Linked DNA regions of Homo sapiens. The protein of the gene in region 1 purifies or fractionates together with the protein of each later gene. This does not show direct contact. Each region holds a gene or a part of one and is shown in the gene's direction. Other genes may lie near its edges.

Region 1 (3,500 bases):
CTTCACTTTCGGTCGGGGCCCCTGCCCCTGCCCCTGCTCTGCTCAGTGCCCCTGATACGTCCAACCCAGCGTCGCTGTGAGGGAGTCAACCACACCTGCCAGCACCCCCGAGTCTGGCCCCACTAGGAGGGGCCAGGGCTCCCTTGAGCAAGGCATCAGCACACAGGCAGGGAGCCGGGCACCAGACTGTGAGGGTCGCGCCCCGTGCACACGAGATCCAGGCCCGCCCCCTCCTGGACTTGGTGACCGTCCCGAGCTCGACCTGAGAGGGCACTTCGGCTCTCCTGTTCACAGTCATGACTGCCCCCTCCCCGAGGTCAGCGCCATGCACTGCTCTGGGGGCCTGAAACACCGCCTCTGTTCGCAAGGGTCTCCTGTCCCGTCCACCTGCCAGTGGGTTGAGCTCTTCCAGGGGTTCGGGACACCCCTCACGGCAGCACCTTCACGTTTACGAGAACTGTCTCTGTCTTGTTTTGTTTCAAGTTCTCAAAACGGAGTGAGGTGGAGGAAGCCTAATGGGAGGATGGGAGCCGGGTTTTCCCGGAACAGCCGTCAGCGTGTATGCGGAGGAAAAGAGATGACTGATGAATTTGTTAATTGCCAAAAGCTTGTTGCTGTAGCAACCGGAGGCCAGACTCGTGGCCCTGACAGCGTCGTTAGTGTCAGCAGAGACTGGAAATAAAGGAAACTCGTGTATGATACGCCTGGCGTCCTCAAAGCAAACAGCAGGCGGTGCCCAGCCCAACACAGGCACGGGCACAAGATCTGCAGATGAGGCATGGAGGGGAAGCGGGCGGTGCCCAGCCCAACACAGGCACGGGCACAAGATCTGCAGACGAGGTGTGCAGAGGGGAAGCAGGTGCACAGAAAAGGTGCGCGGAGATTTTTTTTTTTTAAGACAGGGTCTTGCTCTGTCGCCCAGGCTGGAGTGCAGTGTTGCGGTCATGGCCCAGGCTCACTGCAGCCTCCATTTCCTGGGCTCAGAGGATCCTTTTTCCTCAGCCTCCCAAATAGCTGGGACTCCAGGCATGCACCGACACTCCCAGCTAATTTGCAACCCCTCACTCTCATGTAGCAATTAAAAGTAAGCCTTTATTTCTCAGTAGAAAATATTCATTCCAGTTGACATAAAAATAAATTCGTTTAAAACTTGGACGGCAGGTATTAGGGCGTGCACTTCCCGCTACTCTGCCTTTTTTTTTCCCCCCCGAGACAGAGTCTCGCTCTGTCACCCAGGCTGGAGTGCAGTGGCGTGATCTCAGCTCACTGCAACTTCCGCCTCCCGGGTTCAAACAATTCTCGTGCCCCGGCTTCCCGAGTAGCTGGGACTACAGGTGCCCACCACCACACCTGGCTAATTTTTTGCTTTTTTTTTTTTTTTTTTTTTTTAATGTGGAGATGGGGTTTCACCATGTTGGTCAGGCTGGTCTTGAACTCCTGACCTCAGGTGATCCGCCTGACTTGGCCTCCCAAAGTGCTGGTATTACAGGTGTGAGCCGCCACGCCCTGCCTACTCCGCTTTTAAATGATGGGATGCATTGCTTTTTAAGAAAGGATCTCATGGATCCAGGGGTCCCAGTATGTGATGAAAGATGGCAGTTCCCATCTTACAGAGCGGGCTGGACTCAGAGGCAGGCCGGGGAGGGAGGGGCTGGGTACAGAGGGCAGGCTTGGGAGGGAGGGGCTGGGCACAGAGGACAGGCTGGGGAAGGAGGCACTGGGCGCCGAGGGCAGGTCAGGGAGGGAGGGAGGCTGGGCACACAGAGGGCAGGTCAGGGAGGGAGGGAGGCTGGGCACACAGAGGGCAGGCCAGGGAGGGAGGGGCTGGACTCAGAGGCAGGCCGGGGAGGGAGGGGCTGGGTACAGAGGGCAGGCTTGGGAGGGAGGGGCTGGGCACAGAAGACAGGCTAGGGAGGGAGGGGCTGGGCGCAGAGGACAGGCCGGGGAGGGAGGGAGGCTGGGCACACAGGGCAGGCCAGGGAAGGAGGGGCTGGGCACACAGAGGGCAGGCCAGGGAGGGAGGGGCTGGGCACAGAGGCAGGTCCAGGAGGGAAGGAGGGAGCGGGGGAGGGGCTGTCATCCTACGGCCCAGTGCCTGCCACCTGGACAGGACTTGGAGTTCTGGGGCCCTTGTGTTTCTCTCATGCGGTATTTCCTGGACCACGAACAGTTGGGTTCTCTGAACGAGCTTGTCGTGACTGATCGGCTGTGTGTGCCAGCCCACGGGGTTCTCTTGTCTTCTGTTGGTTCCATCTGATCAGCTGATTTTATTCCTTTTGTCTCTTATAAATGAACTGTGATTCTTCTAATACCAGCAAGAATGGTTTCAAGTTATTTCTGCGCTATAGTTTGTGTATATTAGCCTCGAGTGCATGTGTGTTACATGCGTGCTGTGTGTGCGTGCAGGTGTATCACATTACCGTGCTATAGTTTGTGTGTGAGCCTCGAGTGCATGTGTGTTATATGCCTGCTGTGTGTGTGTGTGGCTGTATCACACATAATGTGTCACATAGGTGTGTATGTTAGCTACATTGTATCTACGTTAGCTAAGAAAATATTCTTAGGGTACTCACATATGGTGACTGTCCCTAGTTTCTCTCAGTGACTTTTCGGGATTGTAACTGAAGGCTAGTATGGCTCAGTTGCCCCTAATCAGGGTAAAATCAAAACAGGCTGTGCACATTTAACCAGGCTTCCACCTCTAAGGTTGTAGCTGAGGTTCCTTGGCGCAGTGGGACGTCCCAGCACGGCACCAGGAGGGAGGGTGTCTGGCAGGACATCAGGTGGTTGGAATTTCAGGGCTCTGGGGATCTCCTGGGTGTGCCCCGATCAAGTCGGCTCACGTCACAGAAACCAGGTGCACCTGCAGCGGCTCCTAAGGAAAACCTAGTGGCACTGGCTGGTTATGCAGAGGCTCGTAAGGAAAGCCTAGTGGCACCGGCTGGTTATGCAGAGGCTCCTAAGGAAAGCCTAGTGGCACCGGCTGGTTATGCAGAGGCTCCTAAGGAAAGCCTAGTGGCACCGGCTGGTTATGCAGAGGCTCCTAAGGAAAGCCTAGTGGCACCCGCTGGTTATGCAGAGGCTCGTAAGGAAAGCCTAGTGGCACCGGCTGGTTATGCAGAGGCTCGTAAGGAAAGCCTAGTGGCACCCGCTGGTTATGCAGAGGCTCCTAAGGAAAGCCTAGTGGCACCGGCTGGTTATGCAGAGGCTCGTAAGGAAAGCCTAGTGGCACCGGCTGGTTATGCAGAGGCTCCTAAGGAAAGCCTAGTGGCACCGGCTGGTTATGCAGAGGCTCGTAAGGAAAGCCTAGTGGCACCGGCTGGTTATGCAGAGGCTCGTAAGGAAAGCCTAGTGGCACCGGCTGGTTATGCAGAGGCTCGTAAGGAAAGCCTAGTGGCACCGGCTGGTTATGCAGAGGCTCCTAAGGAAAGCCTAGTGGCACCCGCTGGTTATGCAGAGGCTCCTAAGGAAAGCCTAGTGGCACCGGCTGGTTATGCAGA
Region 2 (3,500 bases), on another chromosome or scaffold:
CTTCTACCAGGAAGAACGATGCCTTCTTCGTAGTTTCAGGTTTTGGGAAAATGAGTTCCCCAGAATGCTGGGAGCAGAGTTGTGATTCACTCTTGCCCATTCCCTGCTGATGCCAAGCCTTGCTCAGGAACTTAAGAACCTGGTTGTGGTCGCGTTCTCTACATGAAGACACATGGGTTGCTGTCAGTGCTTCCTGAATGGTGCTTCAAACCCTGATTATGAAAATGCAGTAAGAATTGAGCTGTACAGATCTGGCATGTCACTTCCTTGGGCTTGTGTCATCAGCAGTTGTGAAGTCCCCATTGGGGACTTGGTAGCATGGAAAGCCACACAAAGATGTGCTGCATCTGTTTTTGTCTGTGTGGGTACTTTGTTTTCAATAATATTTTGTCTCCTTGCCTAATTTTATTTGTCTATGCACATGTGTGCGTGTGTGTGCTCGAATGCATGCGTGTATATGTGTTTAGGGTCTCTTCCCAGTGATCCGTAACTCACCAAAAATCACCTGTTTTTCCCAAAATTCCCTGGAGCAGTAAATTACCATTCTTAAAGAAGGATAGAGAAAGGCCAGGTGCAATGGCTGACACCTGTAATCTCAGTGCTTTGGGAGGCTGCAGCAGGAGACTAGCTTGAGGCCAGTAGTTCAAGGCTGTATGCCACACCTCCAGACTGAGCGACAGGGTGAGACCCTGTATCTTAAAAAAAAAAAAGAAGAAGAAGAAGAAGAAGGATAAAGGGAAAAGCTATGTACATAATTATTATTCTTTTTCAACAATAAAAACTTTCCAGGTAGAAGTGTTTCTAAAGTATGTTACTATAAAAATTCTAATTAAATAATTGGCTTTTGTACCTGTGAATTATTATTAACACTTTTTAATGGATGTTTCTCTCCATACTTATCTTCCAGTGGCCATAAAATGCAGTAAAAACAAATCCAGTTCCCAAGAAGCTGTACAAATGCTTTCTTCTGTTCGACTCAATTTACGGGGCTTGTTATCTAAAGCAAAGGTGAGAGTGACATGTGAATTAATTGGAATTGTCATATAGAAAAAGGTCATTAGTATCAGCTTATTGCTGTTAAATCTTCTTTTACATCAGTGATAATTTTAGGCGCATGTTTTATTTAATATAGCAGCCCCCTCATGGTTGGTTGTGTTGTGAGGATACTATTGGCCTAATGGATAGACCACTCTAAATGTGTATGACTTAAGAGTCTTTGAAATTGTCTGGGTGCAGTGGCTCATGCCTGTAATCCCAGCACTTTGGGAGGCCAAGGCAGGCAGATCATTTGAGGTTGGGAGTTTGAGACCAGCCTGGCCAACATGGTGAAACCCCATCTCTACTAAAAAATACAGAAATTAGCTGGGCATGGTTGCGGGTGTCTGTAATCCCAGCCACTCAGGAGGCTGAGGCAGGAGAATCTCTTGAACCCGGGAGGCAGAGGTTGCAGTGAGCCGAAATTGCACCACTGCACTTCAGCCTGGGTGACAGAGTGAGATACCATGTCCCAAAAAAAAAAAAAGTCTTTGAAACTAATGTTTACAATTCAGCCCTTAATGCTTTCCTTAAATTAAAATAAAACAATGCTCTTGTATTTATTGTCATTTTCCCCCAAAGTGTGGCATATATGCTACTGGTAAACTTCTGGTTTAAATATATATTCATTTCAGTACATATTAGAAAAAAAGCAGACTAGCTCATCAAGCCTATAATTTCATGAATATTATTGCTTATTTTGTATTTAAAGTTGCAATGTAATGTTTCCTTTTAGAAAGACTCTTAAGTAAAAAAATTGACTTAGATAAAAATATTAAGTAGGTCGTATATGGATGTGAGCAAAATTGTTAAGGTAGATGGCTATTGAGGTTTGACAACTGAAATACGCCATTAGTTCACAAAAACTAACTTGTGTACCAGTGCTGGGCCAGAGATGCCTAAGAATCACTCAGGGAGCTTTATTGAAGACTGGATTGATTCTTGGGCTCTATCTGTGACCGATGTAGATTCAGGTCTGGGATGGACCCAGGAAATCTGTTGAATTTCCTATGTGATTTTACTCTGCAGCCAGGTTTGGATTATACCTCTGGAAGCAAAATTTGGACAAATATAACTTCTAGCACAATTTAGCACTTACTTTTCTAGCCTTTACTTGCTTTCACTATTGCATCTTGGGTTGCAAAGTAATTTTGACTTACTTCCGAGAGTAAGTCTCTGGCACAGGGAGGCCATTTCTGAATACCTTTTTACTCTGTAACCGCCTTTCTGAGTATTTTTTTGTTCTTATTAATGGTTTGATCTTTTCAGATCAAGGCATCATTTTTGCCTCTTTAAATAATTAACTTACTTCACTTTTCCTATTTATCTGCATGACCCAGGAGAACTATATTTCCTCCTAGCTTGGCAGCACAACTTCAAAATTGTGTCTCTCGGAAATCTATAAGAGCCCCCTCAAAGTCAGAGCAGCAGGGTTTTTTCCTGTGACTTTCCTTCCCAAAGTGGGAGCTTTGTTTCCTACTTTTGATCAGTGATCTAATCAAAGTAGTTTACTTCTACTACTACCACAGTAGTTTACTTCTTCAGGGTATACTGTGGCTTCCTTTTGTCTGTGCAAAGCTTTTTCTTACAAATTACTACTTTATGTAATCTATACTTGCATGACTTGAATAGTATTGTCTGTGCAGGTACTGCACACCTTCCCATATTATGGTAGATTCCCACATAATGAAAATGCGGCCCCAGAACATCATCTGTGTTTAGATTTTCATTCTCATTAGATGCCAACTGGATTATCCAAAAATGGGAAAAATTACCTCCCAGTGCCTCCTCTGAAGCATATTTCACATATATTTGGGAGTCTCTGGTTTCGTAGATCTTATGCCTTTTCTATTTAATGAATTAGGTTTGTCAAACTGAATTGCATTCCAAAAAAGTCACTTTTTTAGAATACTTTAAAAAGTGAAAATGAAGATTGAAAATGAATGAGGATAACTATGTTAAATTGCTTGCAGCCTATGTTAAATAGGCTTAATTGAATGAATCTCAGGTCTTTTCTTGCCAGGCCAGGGACTTCATGGAAATAAGCTCCTAGTACCTAGAGACTCACCTAACAAATCATCCAGTCCATGCTCTCCCAGGACAGAGTGACTCCCCTGCCCATTTGCACCCTGTCCTTGTACAGGTTTGCTGCCAAGAGTGGCATGAAGGGGCTGTTCATGAGAGTGCTGGAGAGCCTGGACACAGAACAGATTTGACCCCTTACAGTCTTTGGGACTCTCAGCAAATTATTCACTTTTTTCTAAGCCTCAGTTTCTCCGTGCTTCCTCCTTACCCCACAGGGAAGTGATGCCGATTGATTATGATTTGCAAGCACTGTAATTCTTAGTTTAAAAACGCACACACAAAAACCAAAAAAACTATGTGAGGCTAGGTTATTTTCCTAAAAGGTGTTTTCTCTGCTGATGACATTGGAGCAGTTCCTACTTCATTTTGTTATGAAATGC
Region 3 (3,500 bases), on another chromosome or scaffold:
TCCTCAAGTTTCCAGACGAGCTTGCCCATGTGGAGAAAGCCAGCCGAGGTGGGGCAGTTTGGAATGAAGCTAGAGCCCAAAAGTCTCTGCATGGGGAGGGAAATAAGACACAGTCTAGATGTGAGAGCATTTTCAGTTCAGACTATTTCAAGTGGAAATGAGATAGGATTTAGGCATGGTGCCTAAGTCACAAGGGCAGAGCGTATGGCTGAGGAGAGATCTTTATGTGTAGAAATAGGAAGCACTCTTTCTCTTCCTAAGGAAACACCAAACACCAAAAAACAGCTAGAAAGGCAGGTGTTTTTAGTCTAGGTTAATAGTTCTTTTCATTAAGAAAACATAGACTACATTAACAAAAATTAGGCCTCACTGTCCTGGAACTAGACAAAGAAAAAGCAGCATTCACTGGAAATTGGAACAGATTTCTGCCCCCGCCTCTATATTTCTATGTATATCTCCTTCCTCCCAAACCCTGTTCTCTAAAATAAATGAGACCAAGATCTCAGGGGATTTCATAGATTCATGTTAAATTAAATGAAGTCTCTCTTCTGTTCCTAGTACTGCATACCTTGTGAAGGCTGGAGGTTCAATGATCAAATAATTTATAGTTTCACTGGAAAGATGAAAACTTAAGTATGTGACACAACTAAAGTACATAAGGAACTAAAATTATTAAGTACCAGAATGTGTGTATAGACTGAAGCTATGCTCTGAAAGGTGAAACTAAGGGGTGTTGAGGCTGGGATTATTAGTAAGCTCTTGCTGTCTGTTTTTATGGTTTTTTTTTTTTTTTTTTTTTTTAGTTTCTGCTGAAAACTTGCAAAAGAACCTAGATCAGATGAAGAAACAAATTTCTGATGTGGAACGTGATGTTCAGAATTTCCCAGCTGCCACAGATGAAAAAGACAAGTTTGTTGAAAAAATGACCATATCCTCTCTTGAAAGGAGGGAGTTGTTCCCTAGGAAGGGAAAGAAAACTTCCTGTAGTGGGGGAAAAACAGGATAGATAGGGCAGTATGCAATTTTTTTCTCTTAAAAAACTCTTTTTCTTTAAATACATAGTTTTTTGGGTTTGTTAGTATTTTGAGACAGGCTCTCTCTGTGTCACCCAGGCTGGAGTGCAGTGGTGCCATCACGCCTCACTGCAGCCTTGACCTCTTGGACTCAAACGATCCTTACCCCCTCAGCCTCCTTGGTAGCTGGGACTACAGGCATGTGCCACCAGGCCCTGCTAAACTTTTTGTAACCTTTTTTTCTTTAGAGATGGGGTCTCACTTTGTTGCCCAGGCTGCATAGTTCCTGAGAGCATTCCATTGTTGTGGAGTAGAAGCACACCATGCAGATCAACCATAAAAGTCCCACCAACTCCCCTGCCTGTACCCCGTCTCCACTACACACGCTCACACATGCTTCCCTCTCTTTCCCCTCCCCAGAGGTAACCACTGCCACTGGACTTTATTCTGATTTGCACCTCATACATTTATTTTAAACAAAAACTGCATTGTATTGTGTTTTGCACATATGTCTTGGCCATGTTTCCATAATAGTATTTATAGAAAACCTCCTTTTAGGTCAAGAGATGGAGACCATCCTGGTCAGCATGGTGAAACCCCATCTCTACTAAAAATACAAAAAAATCAGCTGGGCGTGATGGTGCGCGCCTGTAGTTCCAGCTACTTGGGAGGCTGAGGCAGGAGAATTGCTTGAACCCAGGAGGTGGAGGTTGCAATGAGCCAAGATCGCGCCACTGCACTCCTGCCCGGCGATAGAACAAAACCCTGTCTCAAACAAACAAACACAAACAAACAAACAAACAACAGTTTAAACTGCCACCTTCTTTTTTTATAGGTGTACCATAGTTCATGGTTTACTATTCCCCTATTTAGGGGTACCTACATGGCTTTGGTTTTTGCTGTTATAAACAGTGCTGTATTGAACATCCCTTTGCATGCCAGTACTCATCTTTGAGTAATTCCTTGGGCTAGAGAAGTGGGTCTGCTTCTTGGTCTTGGTCTTGGTCCTTTACTCCTTGGCTGCACAGCTTTGTGAAGGATGCACAGGAACAGTATAACAAGCTGCGGATGATGCATTCTAACATGGAGACCCTCTATAAGGAGCTGGGCGAGTACTTCCTCTTTGACCCCAAGAAGTTGTCTGTTGAAGAATTTTTCATGGATCTTCACAATTTTCGGAATATGTTTTTGGTGAGCAAGGGATACTTGCTGACTGAATCTTTTGTGGGCATTTCTCACTTTCCCCTGGGTTCCTGTTGGCTGGTAGTAGGTATACAATGCCCATGTGTTCCTTCCTCCTCTTCCCTGCCCCAGCAAGCAGTCAAGGAGAACCAGAAGCGGCGGGAGACAGAAGAAAAGATGAGGCGAGCAAAACTAGCCAAGGAGAAGGCAGAGAAGGAGCGGCTAGAGAAGCAGCAGAAGAGAGAGCAACTCATAGACATGAATGCAGGTGAGGAGTGAAGACGGGTTGATGGGCTGAGATAGGAATGTTGGGAAGACTTCTCTGCCTAGAGTCTAGAGGCAGAGTCTCATGTCTGAGCTCACCTCCTGGCAAATGATTTTTGGCAGTCTTCACTCCGAGATCCTGATGCCGGACTTTAACCCCAATTCTGATACATGCGCATTCCAACTTGCCCTGGTTAAACTATTACCTTTTCTCTCCTTTGCTCGCTCTTGCATTCTCTCTCATTCCCCTGTGATTGTGGTATTGCTGTGATATATACTGTTTTCCTTCTGTCCATCCAAAGGTTCCTCTGGCCTGTTCTCATTCCCTCCACTAAATCTTTCGGGTTTTTTTCTGTAAAATATTTTCCTGACGCTCCTCCCATCTTTTAATTGTGGCGTGTCTTCCCTTTCTGCTTATTTCACAAAGTACTATGTCCCTAGTACCTTAGCACAGTTGTATGCACAATTAGATTTTAAATGGATTGAACTTTTGGAGCGGGTGGGGAGCCGGTCACCCTCTTCTTTCTTCAGCAGAATCTCTGTTTCACTACCAGAAGCATGTCTTTGTTGAAACATATGGTTTCAATTACTGGCCCTCTGTTTCCTGTCTCTGCTTCTTTCTTGCTGCAGATTCCCTACCCCTTCGCCCCCACTGCTCTCTCTGTGGGCAGCGGAAATACAGCATACACTGCTCACACAGCACTGAGCCCATGCCACCCTCCTCTAAACCTGAGGGGCCACAAACCTTCTGCAAATGAAGAGGTGTTCACAGAGCTGCTGAGTTTGTTAGGAATCAGTATTTTACAGAGCACAGGCACAAGGGCTGCTCTGATACCTCTTGCTACCAGGGACTTTTTATACTTTTCTGTAAAGCAATTTCCTTGCCCTTAGTTGTAAGCCACAACTTCGTAATGCTATTAAAGCCCACACCAAGTATCCTTCACCTTCCCCTGGGACTCCAGGGTTTGTCCCCAGGTACTGGCTAGGATGCAGTGGGGGAAGGTGGAGTCCCGCTGACATGTGGGATGAGGGCTGCACACG
Region 4 (4,164 bases), on another chromosome or scaffold:
AACTCGATCTTGATGCCCTGGTGCTCCAGCCGCTTGTTGGGGTTCTTGAGGGCAAGGCTCACCTTCCCGGAGACCGTCTCCCCGTCGTAGAAGAGGAAATATTTCTCCTTCTTCCCGTCCTCCGTCTTGTGCTCGGCCCGCTTCCTACTCTCTGCATCGTTCAGAAGGATTTCCACCTCCACGCTCTGCCCGAAGCCGAAGAAGCTCATCGCACCGCCGGGCCGGGCGGGTCTCGGTAAGGACCGCTCCCTCGCACCGGGGCGCGGGCTGCCCTAGGTAAAGAAGGCCAGAGGGCCCGATGCGCGAGCGCGCTCGGCCGCCGCGGGGCTGCCTGGCTCCGCCGCTGCCGCCGGGCAGTGGGCGCCGACGGACAGCCGGCTCCACGGGGGAGGGGCACGGCCGGGGGAGGCTGGCGGCTGCGGGCTGCGGCGCCCGAGCAGCAATGCACCGAGGAGCAGTGCCCTCGGCCGAGCCAGTCCCAGCCAGTCCCGCGGCCGGTGGCAGTGGGCGGGCGAGGGTCGGCCGTGCAATGCTGCGGGGGGCAGCCGCACAGAGCCGGGTGTGGGTGGCCTGCGCCTGCCGGGTGGGGTCCAGCGCCGAGCAGCGCTGCGAGCTGCCCAGCCTCCGGCGGTGCAACGCACCGAGGCGCTTCGGCGGCTCCGGGCGGGGGAGGGGGCGGGCGAGCTCCAGCCCGGATGCGCTGGAGCAGCGGCGCGCAGGCGCACCCCCTAACGCTCCTGGGACTCCCGGCAGCCCGGAGGAGAGCTCGCTGCGCATGCGCAGGGAGAGCGCGGCCGGCGCTCCAGCGGTCGGCATGGCAGCTGCTACCTCGCTGGGACAGGCTCTGGGCCCACGCGTGCCGCGCAGTCCCTACAGAACTGCAGTTGTCTTGTCTTCTCGGAGTGCTTTCGGCTACTTTTCCCTTATTACTTTAGCTCGATACACGTTGGGCTGCCTTTCACATTCGGATATTACGCTGTTCGAGTGCTGACGGGAAAGGCAGCCCTTTGACACGCACGCGAAATGTCGCCTGACGAGGGCAAAGGTGACAGTTACTACCGGAAGTACCCTATCTCAGATACCCTTTAGATTTTCCCCCATTGAAGAAAAACGAGGCGGGAAAAACGCTGTTAGGGTTTAACTCAGGCCCTGGCTCCTTCTCGAACGAATTAGCGGAACACCCGCAGGAGCCTTGTTTGGCTTCCACTTTTCGGCCCGCCCAGTTCTCTGAGCGTGCGGCGGACGACGCCGGTGATTGGTTGAGCGAATGGAAACGGCTCGGCGCGGTGGTTGGCCAGTGGGAAATTCTGTACGTTGTGATTGGTCCACAGGAACGACTCGGCGCGCGCGCGGGAGCGAGCTTTGAAAGTTGAGCACGGCGGCGGCGAGCCGGTGCCCTGGGATCATGGTGGCGTTGCGGGGCCTTGGTAGCGGCCTGCAGCCCTGGTGTCCGCTGGATCTTAGACTCGGTGAGCAGATGCAGCCGGGAGGCCCGGGGGCCAGGGCGAGGGTCCTATGCGTCCCCGACGATGCCTAAGCCCGGGCCGGGGTGCCGGTGGGGGCGGGGTGGGGGCGCCCGGCTGTCGGCGGTGCCTGGGGTCCCCAGGGCCGTGCCACGCCAGGATTGCGGCTAGCCAGGTTTCCCGTGGGGGCTCAAGCCGGCCAGGCCACCCTTAGAATAAGCGAATGTTGGCCAGTCTCTTCTAGCGCCTGTGCATCTGTTTTCTCGGCCTTCCCCTTCTTCCTGTGCGTGTCTTCGTGCACCTATCTATTCTTACCTATTAAGATGGTTTTAAATTGCAAATCTCTTTCTTCCGCCAGACTTATTTCTTGAACTTCATGTTCATAGGTTCCACTGGATGTCTCACATGCAGACATCATCAAACGTCACATGAGTGAAAATGGGATTCCCAAAGCCTGCTAATGGCACCATCCAAGCCACCAACCCAGGAGTCATGGCATTTCTGCTTCCCCTTTCATGCCCACTACCACTGTCCTGCCTCTGAGGTGTCTCAGGGCAGCCCCGCTCCATTCCTGATGCTGCTGCCTTCATCATAGCCTCGAGCAATTGCAGGAGTATTTTAGCTGCTTTCTGATGTTAACTGTGCCAGCCCATCCCCCACACTTTTGCAGAACGACTTTTGAAAACACAGCTTTGAATGTGTCAAGCCTGTACACCTTTAATGTTTCCCCTTTGTTTCCTAAATAAATGACCACATCCTTGGCATGCTTTATAAGAGCTGCCATTCTCTCCAGTTTGATTTTCCAAGAGCATAACCTTTGGAGTCGGACACACTTGGATTGTTCCCTTGGCTCTACCCCATAGCATCCATGTATTACCGTGCAGGTTGTTTATCCTTGCTAAACCCCTGTTTTCTGATCTGTCAAATGGGGAGTACAATATCTACCTCACAGGGGTTTTTGTAAAGATAAATTTGTACTTGCCACATAATAACTGCTGAACAGATACTAATACCCACAAGCAAACACTGTAACAATTTTGTTCATTTAGAAACACTTTAATTTCTTTCCCTTTGTGTGCTTTGTTACACTGTGCTTGCTGGGAGGCACTTTTCTGCATTTATTTGCCTGGCAAAACTCTTACATTCAGGTCCAATTGAAGAATCATCTTATTCCTCTCCCTCCTCCCCCAGTACTATTCCCTATTAAGCTCTGTAGCATTTTACATTTTACATATCTATTATTTTAACACTCATCCATAGCAAAAATAATAAATACCATCTATTGACTGTTTTTTATGTGGCTAGCACATTGTTAGGGCCTTTATACACATTATGTTTCACAAAAATCCTGTATTTCCAATGATGAAGGAGAGACTAATTATGTGTAAGTGATCAAGTCAGGATATTTGCCTCGTTCTGACTCAAAATTCAGTGGCCTCTCTTCTATCATAGGCTGCTTTTTTTGGTATCCTAAGTGTGAAATGTTGAGATCTTTGTGGACAAGAACCCTCTAGTATTCATCTTTATATCCCTAGAAGTATAAGTGGCTTCCCTAGTATTTTCTCAAAGTGTTTGTTGAGTGAATAGGTGATGTATTTCTTCCTCTTCTTCCATCCTAAGTGAAGTAGCAGAGCAGAAGTTACCTGCATTCGACAGCTGAGAAAATAGGTAGTGAGAGATTTGAATAGTGTAAAGATACTGAGGGAAAAAGACTAACTCAGTGTCTCCTATACTCTCACTCAACAATCAACACTGAAGACTTCTGTGACCAAATGGTAGATAACAGGGCCAGTTACTGCCATCCAAATTAGATTTGATGGTATTTACAGTAGGGAACTGTCATAAGCAAAACCAAAAGAAGGAGTGAGATAACTTTTGCTGTGGTCTATAATGACCTTTAAAACATTACTGGAAATTTGGAAAGAAACAATTGTATTTTTCAGATCTTCTTTCAGGCAGCATATTCCATGTCTTTGGAAGGAATGCTGTGCATAGCCACTTAGGGTACAGAGACCCCCTCCTTCAGGGTCAAGTTCAAGTGACAAAAGATGATGACCAGATTGTATTCTAAGGATGGAACTAGTTGAGTGTAAGGCCTTTCATTTTCATTTGCCGAGTGCAGTGTAATGCTCCCATCTCTGTTTTTTCCTTATTTATACCTTGCCCAACTTCTCTAAATCAGTGGTGAACAAATACTTTTAATATTAATTTGAAGGAACACCTGATTAATAATTTGAGATGTCCACATTTCCATCTAGTCCTAATTTTAGTTTGGGAAAGTGACAATGACAACACTGAAGAAATATAGTGTATTAGAAAAGAATGGGAAGGGGGGATGGAGGGATAGGGGAGGGATACCATTAGGAGAAATACCTAATGTAGATGACGGGTTGATGGGTACAGCAAACCACCATGGTACGTGTATACCTATGTAACAAACCTGCATGTTGTGCACATGTACCCAAAAACTTTAAGTTAAAAAAAAAAGTTTATCCAAAAAAAAAAGAAAAAGAAAAGAATGGGAAGATTTAGAGTTAAGAGAGATTGGTGGAATCCAGCCAGCGTGCTGTCTTAATACCCCTCCTCTCAATGTACATTCTTTCAATCAGTGTGTTTTAAAGTCACCAAGTATTCCTGGGAGTCTGAATCTGGGTTGCCTCTTCTATTTTAAACTTCCTGGAGAAATTATATATGTTTTTTA
Region 5 (3,500 bases), on another chromosome or scaffold:
AGCTTGATATCCAAGTGGGCATGTTGTGGAAGACACCCATTGTGGGATACAGCTCAAAACTGATGCATTTAAAGAAAGATTAAGATATATTTTCACATAGCTATTTATTGTGAATGTCAGTAATGGAGAGAAATTAACTCATACTGATTTAAAACTTATTTTCCTCATCAGGTTGAGTCTGTTTCCAAATAATATACTCTGGCTGTAGCTTAAACAGACAACTGAATTCTGGTATTTAACTGACTTTGTGTGAGGTTACCTGGCAGGGAAAGGTATTGGTCCCTTTCTCATGAAAGAATGTAGAAAACAAAATTCTTACTTATCACCATTTGCACAGTCTTTGGTTTACTGAAGATTTTACTGTATTGCTTTAAGGAGAGTAAGCTACATTGCTACAAATACATACCAGCATATTGGCCACCAGCTGTATACAGTGTGGCCTATGAATGAGTGAGAAGCTTCTAGGTAGCTATTAAGGCAGGCCTAGGTAGGAATCCAACACTTTATTAGGAAGGAATTATTCCGAAATGGCTGTTGACTCAATCACCTGGCAGTTCTGGCACTCACCCAAGGGAGAAGAGATTTTGGGTACAATCCTTTTTAAAAAATCTATTTGTTGTTCTGTGATATCATAGACATCCAGGCTTTAAAAAGAAAGATCTGCTCAAAATTAAGAGGAATTTTAACCTACCCTTAATTCGTTGGTCTGTTATTAAGCTAAAAGTAAAAGAAATAAACTTTTAAACTTCATAATATGAGCCAGTTAATGAGACTTTTTTACAAAACTTAAACAAATTTTCAAACGTGCTAAAAAGTAGAATAGTACAATGAACCACCACCATCTATCCATTGCCCAGATATAAGTTATCTACATTTTGCAACATTTGCTTGATCCATCCTTTATTTTTCCCTTGCTAAAGTATTTTAGTGCAAATCTCAGATATCTTGTCATTTTACTCCTACATACTGTCACGTCTTTAAAAATTAAAATTAACATATTCCTTGGTATCATCCAGCATTCATTCCATAATCAAATATTACCAATTGCCTAAAAAAATTAGATTTTTGATCTAAGGTGTACCTAATTGATATACATGTCACTGAACTCCTTAAACAAATACAGCTTTAAATTACTGGTAAAATCTTATTCAGAGTTACTCCACATAAAGTGCTATCATAAAGCCTCAGCCCAAATTAAGTTCACTTCTGTCTTTAATTCTGTAGAAGTATCTGGAAAGGTTGACTATACAAGGGTGGATAGACTCCTTGGAACAGCTGTTATGTACCATCAAAAATAGAACAAATTAGTTTTGGCTTTACTCACTGGTTGGGCAATCACTAATTCTTCATTTTGCAATTTGTGAAGTGGGGTGGGGCTTATGTGTAAGAATTTTCCTTTCAGGGAAATGCTGTAGATAGTTAGGCAAAGGAAAATTATTCTTCATTTCTCTAGATAAAGCGTTCATATGACTCTTTGACATTCACACCCCACCACAACAACTAAGTTTATGTTACTGGCTCTAGTTTTATTTCAAAACAAATGCCGGTTTGGTCTATCTTTGTTTTTCAGCCCCTTTGATATAGTCTAGGTTGCTGAATCTGGATAATTGGGTGAGTAAACCTTTACATAGAAGTTATTCTTATTGAGATGTTTGTGGGCTTACAATTGAAAATCAGACTACACTAATGAGGTGATGGAGCTGGGGATGGGTGGAGTAGGTAAATATGAGAAATCAACTTGGGCAAATGGCCTAGACTCCACACAGATTTGCTAAAGAAATTGTGTAACTATTACTTTCCAGACAGCAGTTTAGTGCTGTTATTGTGCTGAGAGGCAATAGGCAAATAATTTCACTAGCTGTAGACTCAAGTAGATTTAGGCTAGTAATCTGTCTCCACTCTGCAACTTCTAGACTGACCATTTACTAACCCAGTCAGTTGGGTAGTTTTCCTCAAAACAGATAGATGAGTGATAATTGTTGGAGCCAGAGAGCTGGCATTTTCTTCTTTTGTTTGGCCCGGGAGGGAAAACTATGGAGGTGGTGTTTTATGTGCTCTGAAATCAATCACTGATAAAGTCTTAAATGCTTAGTAGTCTATTGTGCTGGCTGAAACTGTTTACAAAGATTCTATATGTAGATAGGAAGACCTTGTATAGGCTGTACACTTGCATTGTGAGCTTTAATAATGTATACGTATAACAGAGACCAGGTCGGTATGTATGGGTGGGCCCTGACCAAGGGTGTGAGACCACAGAGGTCACACCACTTACCAAATCATGTGCCAGTTACAAGACTATGTCTTCCTGGGGCTGCGTTTTCTGATTCACACAGAGGCACCATATGGGCTAGCTAATACATTTAAAGCCAGATGGATTTTAGTCTCATACCTGATAAGAAATTCAGCAAGGATTCCGGGCATGGTGGCTCACGCCTGTAGTCCCAGGACTTTGGGAGGCTGAGGCGGGTGGATCACCTGAGGTCAGAAGTTTGAGACCAGCCTGGCCAACATGGTGAAACCCCATCTCTACTAAAAATACAAAAATTAGCTGTGCATGATGGGAGACGCCTGTAATCCCAGCTACTCGGGAGGCTGAGGCAGAAGAATTGCTTGAACCCAGAAGGCAGAGGTTGCAGTGAGCCAAGATTGCACCATTGTACTCTAGCATGGGCAACAAGAGTGAAACTTCATTTTGAGTAGGGATTTCTTATTTGTCATTGGTTCTGAGAAAAGAATGTAAGATGTATATTTATGTAATATCCTACACCTGATTACTTTTGCTTTTGAATTATTGAAATCTTCAAATGTAGATGGCTGTGCCCTTGAGGGCCTAGGTTATAGTTCAGTATGTTCATTATCTTCCCCAACTTAAGGGTTGAGTTCTGTTATAGCTAATTGTAGATCAATTAGCTTAAGGCTCCTCCCTTTCTGCACTCCTTTCAGCAATTTTCTTGACATAATTGTTTCACAGAGTTTTATATGGTTACGCATTATCTAGGCTGCATTTTTTTTTTTTTTAGATGGAGTCTCACTCTGTCACCCAGGCTGGAGTGCAGTGGCCTGATCTCTGCTTACTGCAACCTCCGCCTCCCGGGTTCAAGCGATTCTTCTGCCTCAGCCTCCCGAGTACCTGGGATTACAAGCATGCACCACCACGCCCAGCTAATTTTTGTATTTTTAGTAGAGATGGGGTTTCCCAATGTTTCCCAGGCTAGTCTCAAACTCCTGACCTCAAGTGATCCGCCCTCCTGGGCCTCCCAAAGTGCTGGGATTACAGGCATGAGCTACCGCGCCTGGCTGCATTGTTTTTTGAAGTTTGTACCATGCTTATTTCCACTTTCATTGCTCACGATACAGGGCAGAACATATAGAAAGTTAAGATGGGTTAAAACAAATTTGGCAGAAGCATTTCCTCTGATAATATGCTCTGCAATCTAGTACCTCACATTACAAAATCAACGTTTTTCAGAAGAGTCAGTGTGTACATAAAATATTTGTGA
Region 6 (3,500 bases), on another chromosome or scaffold:
TGGCCTATTGCCATAAAAGGCACTATTTAGACAATTGGCAGAATTTGAAAACAGACTGTATATTAGAACATTTTAATATCAGTGTTAGATTTCCTTAATCTGATCTTTATATGGTTATGTAAGAGAATATTCTTGTTCTTAGGAATACATGCTGATTCCTCTCAAAGGATAAAAGGACATGATGTCTACAACTTTCTTTCAAATTGTTCAGAGAAAAAACTGATATCTAACTATATTTCTGACATCCATATATACATACACATATATAAATGGGGAGAGAGAATGATAAAGCAAATAAGTTCTTTGTTATGTTCTTATAATTCTTCCATAATTTTGAAGTTCTTTCCAAATAAAAAACTGACAAATAAATGTATTTGGAGATCATGAATTTCCCCATCACTTGAAGTACTCAATTCTGTTGAATAATTGTATTAGAAACAAGTGTGATTTTAAAGGAAAATACAATTTGTGAAGTTAACCTCTCATTTTATTTTTTTTTTTTTTGCCAATTTTTCTTAAGGATGGCAAAGCAGAAAAAGCTGACACCTCTACTTCTGGGAAAGCAAGTATGAAATCAATTCTTGAAAACCTGAGTGATCTTTGGGATCAAGAGCAGTATGATTCAGAGTACAGCCTGGAAAATTTTATGCATTCTCTCAAGTAACTATCAAATATTGTAAATGCAATTGCTGCTAGTTCAGTTACATTTCTGCTGATATTCAGCAAATTTCTAAGTTTATGGTGAACTTTTAACTCAATGTGTAAATAGATCTGGAGAATATTCAGCATAATGCTGGCTCTTGTTTCACTGGGGGAAACAAGTTATTCTCAAATATTTGCACTGTATTAAATTTAAATGTTAATGTGAAATGGTTTAAATTTTACATGCTGAAAAGCTGCAGAGCAGAGGAACCAAACCAGGTTTATTTGTGCTACCAGGAGGTGTTCTTAATGGGAACAGGCCTCCTATCTTTAGTCACTTTGTACAGGATGATATCCATGAGTACTTTAGTGTTTGTATATGTTTTTTCTTTTAAATAGAACTTGTTTTTATAATTGATTTAAAATAGGGCTTTTTTTCTATAAAAGCCTTAATGAGCCATAATTTTAAGAATATAAGAATAATGACTATGATATTGGTCAGTCTTAGAACATGAAAATGTCAGACAATGAATTTAATCGGGCCCTTGGTGGAAACATTTATATATTTAATGCAGATGCATAGTGTTTTTCAAATCTTTAACATCATTTTTTCAACTTTTAAGATATAATATCAACTATTCTAAATACAGGTAATGGTATATTTAAGGCTACCATAACATCCTATTTAGAGGGTGGTTTTTTTTAATTTATCTAATGGCTACGATATAGCCAGATTCAAATAACATATGTACTCAATAGGTTTCAATCATATATATAATATATTTTTTGTAACTATGAACATACACAGTTTTCCAGAAATAGATTTTACACTGTTTAGAATTCCAACACCTACAGTGGAAAGACTGTTTATTGTAGTAATGCATGGCTGAAGCATAAAAGGGAGAGAGAATTTCTTTATATACACAAACATACATGAATATGCATATCTATATGCATAGATGTACCTATCCTGCACCCAAAAAGGTGCCTGGTATTGGCACTAAAATCATGTAGTTATACTGGGCAGCAATAATAATTGGGCATGAGGCTGATTACTCAATGGTGAGGGTAGGTATATGTAGATAGATGTGCATGTATGTGTTTGTATATATAATTTTATAAGTTTCACGCATAAATTAATACATGCCTGTGTGCATACATATGTATGGGATATATTTGTATATATATGTACAGGTAATAAACATCCCCAAGGTTTGTGGCTGGCCATACACATAGGCATCAGTTTAACAACCATCAGACCTCAGCTGTACAATAACAGGTGTTTTGTTTAATTAAAATTATACTGTTCTGCAGCATTTAGACATTTGTCACATTTCATTAGCTTTGACAACCATACTGTAACATTAAACCTAGCATTCCACAAGAGAATAAATATAAGATTGAAACTGTAAAATATATGCAACTGTGTGTTATTTGTAGGAAATGGTCACTAGAAAGAGCAAAAGATTATTCAGGTATACAGGTTTTTTTTCATTGTTTAGGATTTTAACTCAAAACTTTATGTAGAACATTTCAGTATATTTGAGTTGAATATTTTTTTATTAACTATTTATTTGCTAGTTCCATAAACCAGCTCTTTAACATAGCTTATAGTAATTGATATTTTCTTAGAATAAGTACAGAGCAATATATCATTAAAGGGCTATGAAGGGGCAAAAGAAATCACACCATAAAAGTTAGTACTTTTTCCCAATCTGAAATGTCAGATAGAGCTAGAAGTCAGATATTTAGGCTGTTTAAACTTTCTGAGAGTTTAATCAAAAGGTGTGTATTTCTAGAAGGATGACTAGAAAAATGATGTGTGGTTGCTTCTGAATGGGAAACAGGAGTCAGAGCTGACAGGAAAACTTAGAGTGGCTATAACATTTTTAAAATAATCTTTTGAGTTGTAAAATAGTAAATCACACATTCCAACTTTTCCATAGAAAGGAAAACATGTAAACAGGTAAGAACTAAGTATTCTTAATTAAATGACCCAGTCATTGTAGTACATCTTAAGAATAATGAAGAGATGTGGAGAATTGAACTGAGTAATGAATGATATTAAAGAACTGCTGTCAATTTCATGGATGTGATGATTTGGTAGTTTTTTCAATGTATGGGTGTGGGAAGTCAAACAAGCATGATAGAATGTTAACTATTTTAAACTGGGAATTGGGTTCATAGATATCCATTGTACTACTTCCCTTGGTTTTTGTGTCTTTATGATAGGAAATAGCAAACTGTTAAAAATATAGATTCAGAGATTATTAGTCTTATCATTTGGGTTTCTTGTAGGAAAATCTTAACATTTGGGGGCCTGGGTATAATTTTTGTTTCATATATTCACTCATATATATGCTTATTGTATATGCTTATTTATTCTACAAACATTTCTCCAAAAAGTATTCTAGTGAAAGGGTAAAAGTCTTTGATGTTGGGACTGATTGAACTGGTATAGCCTTATTCCTTCTGGATGGTTTATATGAACTTACTTATTCAAAAGTAAATATTCCACTGAAGCTATTTGAGAATGTGATCACTTATAGACAAAAGTGGAATTCGAACATAATAGAAATTATACAAAAGTAACAAGCACTCCATCACACATCTGTTCTAAATATTTAATCCTAATAGAATCTTCTATGTCCTGCAGACCTCCCATGCTGGCACCAGTGGAGTCTAAAGTGAAATTGGGCTGGGCACGGTGGCTTATGCCTATGAGAGGCCAAGGCAGGAGGAGCACTTGAGCCCAGGAGTTCAAGACCAACCTGGGCAACATAGGGAGATCCTGTCTCTACAAAAAAAATACAAAAATTAGCCAGGCACAGTGGCATGCTTTTCTTGTCCCAGCTACT
Region 7 (3,500 bases), on another chromosome or scaffold:
TGATGATGTGCTAACTTTCTCTAAGTTTGGCAAATAAGTATAGTAAATGTCTCATTTAGGCTTTTGTGATTGATGTCTTTTTTTTTTTCTTTTCAGTGTACTTCCCCAGGTATACCAGCCCATATGCAAAGCAGATCTATGTTAAGACCTCTGGAACTATCTTTACCCAGTCAAACGTCATACTCTGAAAATGAAATTTTAAAGAAAGAGTTAGAAGCAATGCGAACTTTCTGTGAGTCAGCAAAACAAGACCGACTGAAGCTCCAAAATGAACTGGCACACAAAGTGGCAGAATGCAAAGCTTTAGCATTAGAATGTGAAAGGGTCAAGGAGGATTCAGATGAACAGATAAAGCAATTAGAAGATGCATTAAAAGATGTGCAGAAGAGGATGTATGAGTCAGAAGGTAAAGTTAAACAAATGCAGACCCATTTTCTTGCCCTTAAAGAACACTTAACAAGTGAAGCAGCCTCAGGGAATCACAGACTAACCGAGGAACTGAAGGATCAGTTGAAAGACTTGAAAGTAAAATATGAAGGTGCTTCAGCAGAAGTGGGGAAATTAAGAAACCAAATCAAACAAAATGAGATGATAGTAGAAGAGTTTAAGAGGGATGAAGGCAAGCTGATAGAAGAAAATAAGCGATTACAGAAGGAACTTAGTATGTGTGAAATGGAGCGAGAGAAGAAAGGAAGAAAGGTCACAGAGATGGAAGGCCAGGCAAAAGAATTGTCAGCGAAGTTGGCCCTTTCCATTCCAGCTGAAAAATTTGAAAACATGAAGAGCTCATTATCAAATGAAGTGAATGAGAAAGCAAAAAAATTAGTAGAAATGGAAAGAGAACATGAAAAATCACTTAGTGAAATTAGACAGTTAAAGAGAGAACTTGAGAATGTTAAGGCCAAGCTTGCTCAGCACGTCAAACCAGAGGAACATGAACAGGTTAAGAGCAGATTAGAACAGAAATCAGGAGAACTTGGGAAGAAGATCACTGAGTTAACATTGAAAAATCAGACACTACAAAAGGAAATTGAAAAAGTTTATTTGGATAATAAGCTCCTCAAGGAGCAAGCACATAACTTAACAATTGAAATGAAAAATCATTATGTTCCTTTAAAAGTAAGTGAAGACATGAAAAAGTCACATGATGCAATTATTGATGATCTTAATAGAAAGCTTTTAGATGTAACACAAAAATATACAGAAAAGAAGTTGGAAATGGAGAAATTGCTACTGGAAAATGACAGCTTAAGTAAGGATGTAAGCCGCCTAGAAACTGTGTTTGTACCTCCTGAGAAACATGAAAAAGAGATAATAGCTCTGAAATCCAATATTGTTGAACTTAAGAAACAGCTGTCTGAACTTAAGAAAAAATGTGGTGAAGACCAGGAGAAAATACACGCTCTCACATCTGAAAACACTAACTTGAAGAAGATGATGAGTAATCAGTATGTGCCAGTTAAAACCCATGAAGAGGTTAAAATGACACTGAATGACACGTTAGCCAAAACTAACAGAGAATTATTAGATGTGAAGAAAAAATTTGAAGATATAAATCAGGAATTTGTAAAAATAAAAGATAAGAATGAAATATTAAAAAGAAACCTGGAAAACACTCAGAACCAAATAAAAGCTGAGTACATCAGCCTGGCAGAGCACGAGGCAAAGATGAGCTCGCTAAGTCAGAGCATGAGAAAGGTGCAGGATAGTAATGCTGAAATCTTGGCCAACTACAGAAAAGGCCAAGAAGAGATTGTGACACTGCATGCCGAAATTAAAGCCCAGAAGAAGGAGCTCGACACAATACAAGAATGCATTAAGGTAAAATACGCCCCAATTGTCAGCTTTGAGGAGTGCGAGAGAAAATTTAAAGCAACAGAGAAAGAACTAAAAGACCAGTTATCAGAGCAGACACAAAAGTATAGTGTCAGTGAAGAAGAAGTCAAGAAAAACAAGCAAGAGAATGACAAGTTAAAGAAGGAGATTTTTACCCTTCAGAAAGATTTGAGAGATAAGACAGTTCTCATTGAGAAGTCTCATGAAATGGAAAGAGCATTAAGCAGAAAAACAGACGAGCTAAACAAACAGTTAAAAGACTTGTCACAGAAATACACGGAAGTAAAGAATGTGAAAGAGAAGCTAGTAGAAGAAAATGCCAAACAGACTTCTGAGATACTTGCAGTGCAAAATCTTTTGCAAAAACAACATGTTCCATTGGAACAGGTTGAGGCTCTGAAAAAATCTCTTAATGGCACAATTGAAAATCTAAAGGAAGAACTGAAGAGTATGCAAAGGTGTTACGAGAAAGAGCAGCAGACAGTGACCAAACTGCATCAATTGTTGGAGAATCAAAAGAACTCTTCTGTACCCCTGGCAGAGCATTTGCAGATTAAAGAAGCATTTGAGAAAGAAGTTGGAATCATAAAAGCCAGCTTGAGAGAAAAGGAAGAAGAAAGCCAAAACAAAATGGAAGAAGTCTCCAAACTTCAGTCGGAGGTTCAGAATACTAAACAAGCATTAAAAAAATTAGAGACTAGAGAGGTAGTTGACTTGTCTAAATATAAAGCAACAAAAAGTGATTTGGAGACACAGATTTCTAGCTTAAATGAAAAATTGGCCAATCTGAATAGAAAGTATGAGGAAGTATGTGAGGAAGTTTTGCATGCCAAAAAGAAGGAAATATCTGCAAAAGATGAGAAGGAATTACTGCATTTCAGCATTGAGCAAGAAATTAAGGATCAGAAGGAACGATGTGATAAGTCCTTAACAACAATCACAGAGTTACAAAGAAGAATACAAGAATCTGCTAAACAAATAGAAGCAAAAGATAATAAGGTAGGTACAAAGTAGTCTGCACGGCTATGTGTTGGAAACCCCAGAGCAGTGCTCTTTACCACAGAATCTCACAGGAAAGTAGACACAGGTATTAACAAAGTGACCCTTTCCAGTTTAGCAACTTGCGTGCAAAAATTCCGAATTGAAAAAAAAAGTGAAGTAACACAAAAGTCAAAAGCATTTTTCCTTCTGTTTCTTTAGCTGTTCTAGCCAAGAATTCAGGAACGATGGGGAGACTTAAGGCTCACTTGTCTCATACATGAAGAGTCAAAAGCCAGTGGGTTTGTGGCATATGAAAGATGGGGAAGAGGGTGGTGGGGAAGCTCTCTTTCTGGGCTGCAAGAAACCAAGAACACTGGGGAGCATCTAGAGTTGATCTCGGTACTCACCCATAGTAGTAAACTGAGCCCTCCAATTCATTTTATGTTCTGTTGCTCATGTCTTTCTACAGACTAGAAAGTCTACATCCCCTCACCCAGAATGTCCTTTCCCTCCTTTCTACTGAGTTGAATCCTATACATTCATTAACATGTTATCCTCCTTCTTAAAGCCCTCACTGTCCAATCTAGTCTATAGTAAACAGTTCCTCCTCTAAGGTGGATGTTTTACTGTGGCTTTGCCATCCATTTAAAACATTTATATTACCTTGTTAGAATTATGTAGTT

Evidence for each region.
Region 2: the proteins of CTDP1 (region 1) and TTC27 purify together in Homo sapiens (affinity purification with mass spectrometry; one large-scale study listed by BioGRID and IntAct). This does not show direct contact.
Region 3: the proteins of CTDP1 (region 1) and DIAPH1 purify together in Homo sapiens (affinity purification with mass spectrometry; one large-scale study listed by BioGRID and IntAct). This does not show direct contact.
Region 4: the proteins of CTDP1 (region 1) and NCAPD3 purify together in Homo sapiens (affinity purification with mass spectrometry; one large-scale study listed by BioGRID and IntAct). This does not show direct contact.
Region 5: the proteins of CTDP1 (region 1) and DIAPH2 purify together in Homo sapiens (affinity purification with mass spectrometry; one large-scale study listed by BioGRID and IntAct). This does not show direct contact.
Region 6: the proteins of CTDP1 (region 1) and BTAF1 purify together in Homo sapiens (affinity purification with mass spectrometry; one large-scale study listed by BioGRID and IntAct). This does not show direct contact.
Region 7: the proteins of CTDP1 (region 1) and UACA purify together in Homo sapiens (affinity purification with mass spectrometry; one large-scale study listed by BioGRID and IntAct). This does not show direct contact.

The regions. Positions count from the first base shown.
Region 1 is NC_000018.10:79,749,303-79,752,802, forward strand, and holds part of CTDP1 (RNA polymerase II subunit A C-terminal domain phosphatase), read left to right. Parts: intron 1-3,500. UniProt on the Homo sapiens protein: Processively dephosphorylates 'Ser-2' and 'Ser-5' of the heptad repeats YSPTSPS in the C-terminal domain of the largest RNA polymerase II subunit. This promotes the activity of RNA polymerase II.
Region 2 is NC_000002.12:32,816,550-32,820,049, forward strand, and holds part of TTC27 (tetratricopeptide repeat protein 27), read left to right. Parts: intron 1-907; coding exon 908-1,008; intron 1,009-3,500.
Region 3 is NC_000005.10:141,525,001-141,528,500, reverse strand, and holds part of DIAPH1 (protein diaphanous homolog 1), read left to right. Parts: coding exon 1-48; intron 49-803; coding exon 804-928; intron 929-2,039; coding exon 2,040-2,204; intron 2,205-2,327; coding exon 2,328-2,463; intron 2,464-3,500. UniProt on the Homo sapiens protein: Actin nucleation and elongation factor required for the assembly of F-actin structures, such as actin cables and stress fibers. Binds to the barbed end of the actin filament and slows down actin polymerization and depolymerization.
Region 4 is NC_000011.10:134,221,168-134,225,331, reverse strand, and holds the start of NCAPD3 (condensin-2 complex subunit D3), read left to right. Parts: upstream 1-1,364; 5' UTR 1,365-1,405; coding exon 1,406-1,469; intron 1,470-4,164. Other genes in the region: VPS26B (vacuolar protein sorting-associated protein 26B), read right to left, coding at 1-209.
Region 5 is NC_000023.11:96,691,342-96,694,841, forward strand, and holds part of DIAPH2 (protein diaphanous homolog 2), read left to right. Parts: intron 1-3,500. UniProt on the Homo sapiens protein: Could be involved in oogenesis. Involved in the regulation of endosome dynamics.
Region 6 is NC_000010.11:92,028,270-92,031,769, forward strand, and holds the end of BTAF1 (TATA-binding protein-associated factor 172), read left to right. Parts: intron 1-520; coding exon 521-664; 3' UTR 665-3,168; downstream 3,169-3,500. UniProt on the Homo sapiens protein: Regulates transcription in association with TATA binding protein (TBP). Removes TBP from the TATA box in an ATP-dependent manner.
Region 7 is NC_000015.10:70,666,059-70,669,558, reverse strand, and holds part of UACA (uveal autoantigen with coiled-coil domains and ankyrin repeats), read left to right. Parts: intron 1-96; coding exon 97-2,835; intron 2,836-3,500. UniProt on the Homo sapiens protein: Regulates APAF1 expression and plays an important role in the regulation of stress-induced apoptosis. Promotes apoptosis by regulating three pathways, apoptosome up-regulation, LGALS3/galectin-3 down-regulation and NF-kappa-B inactivation.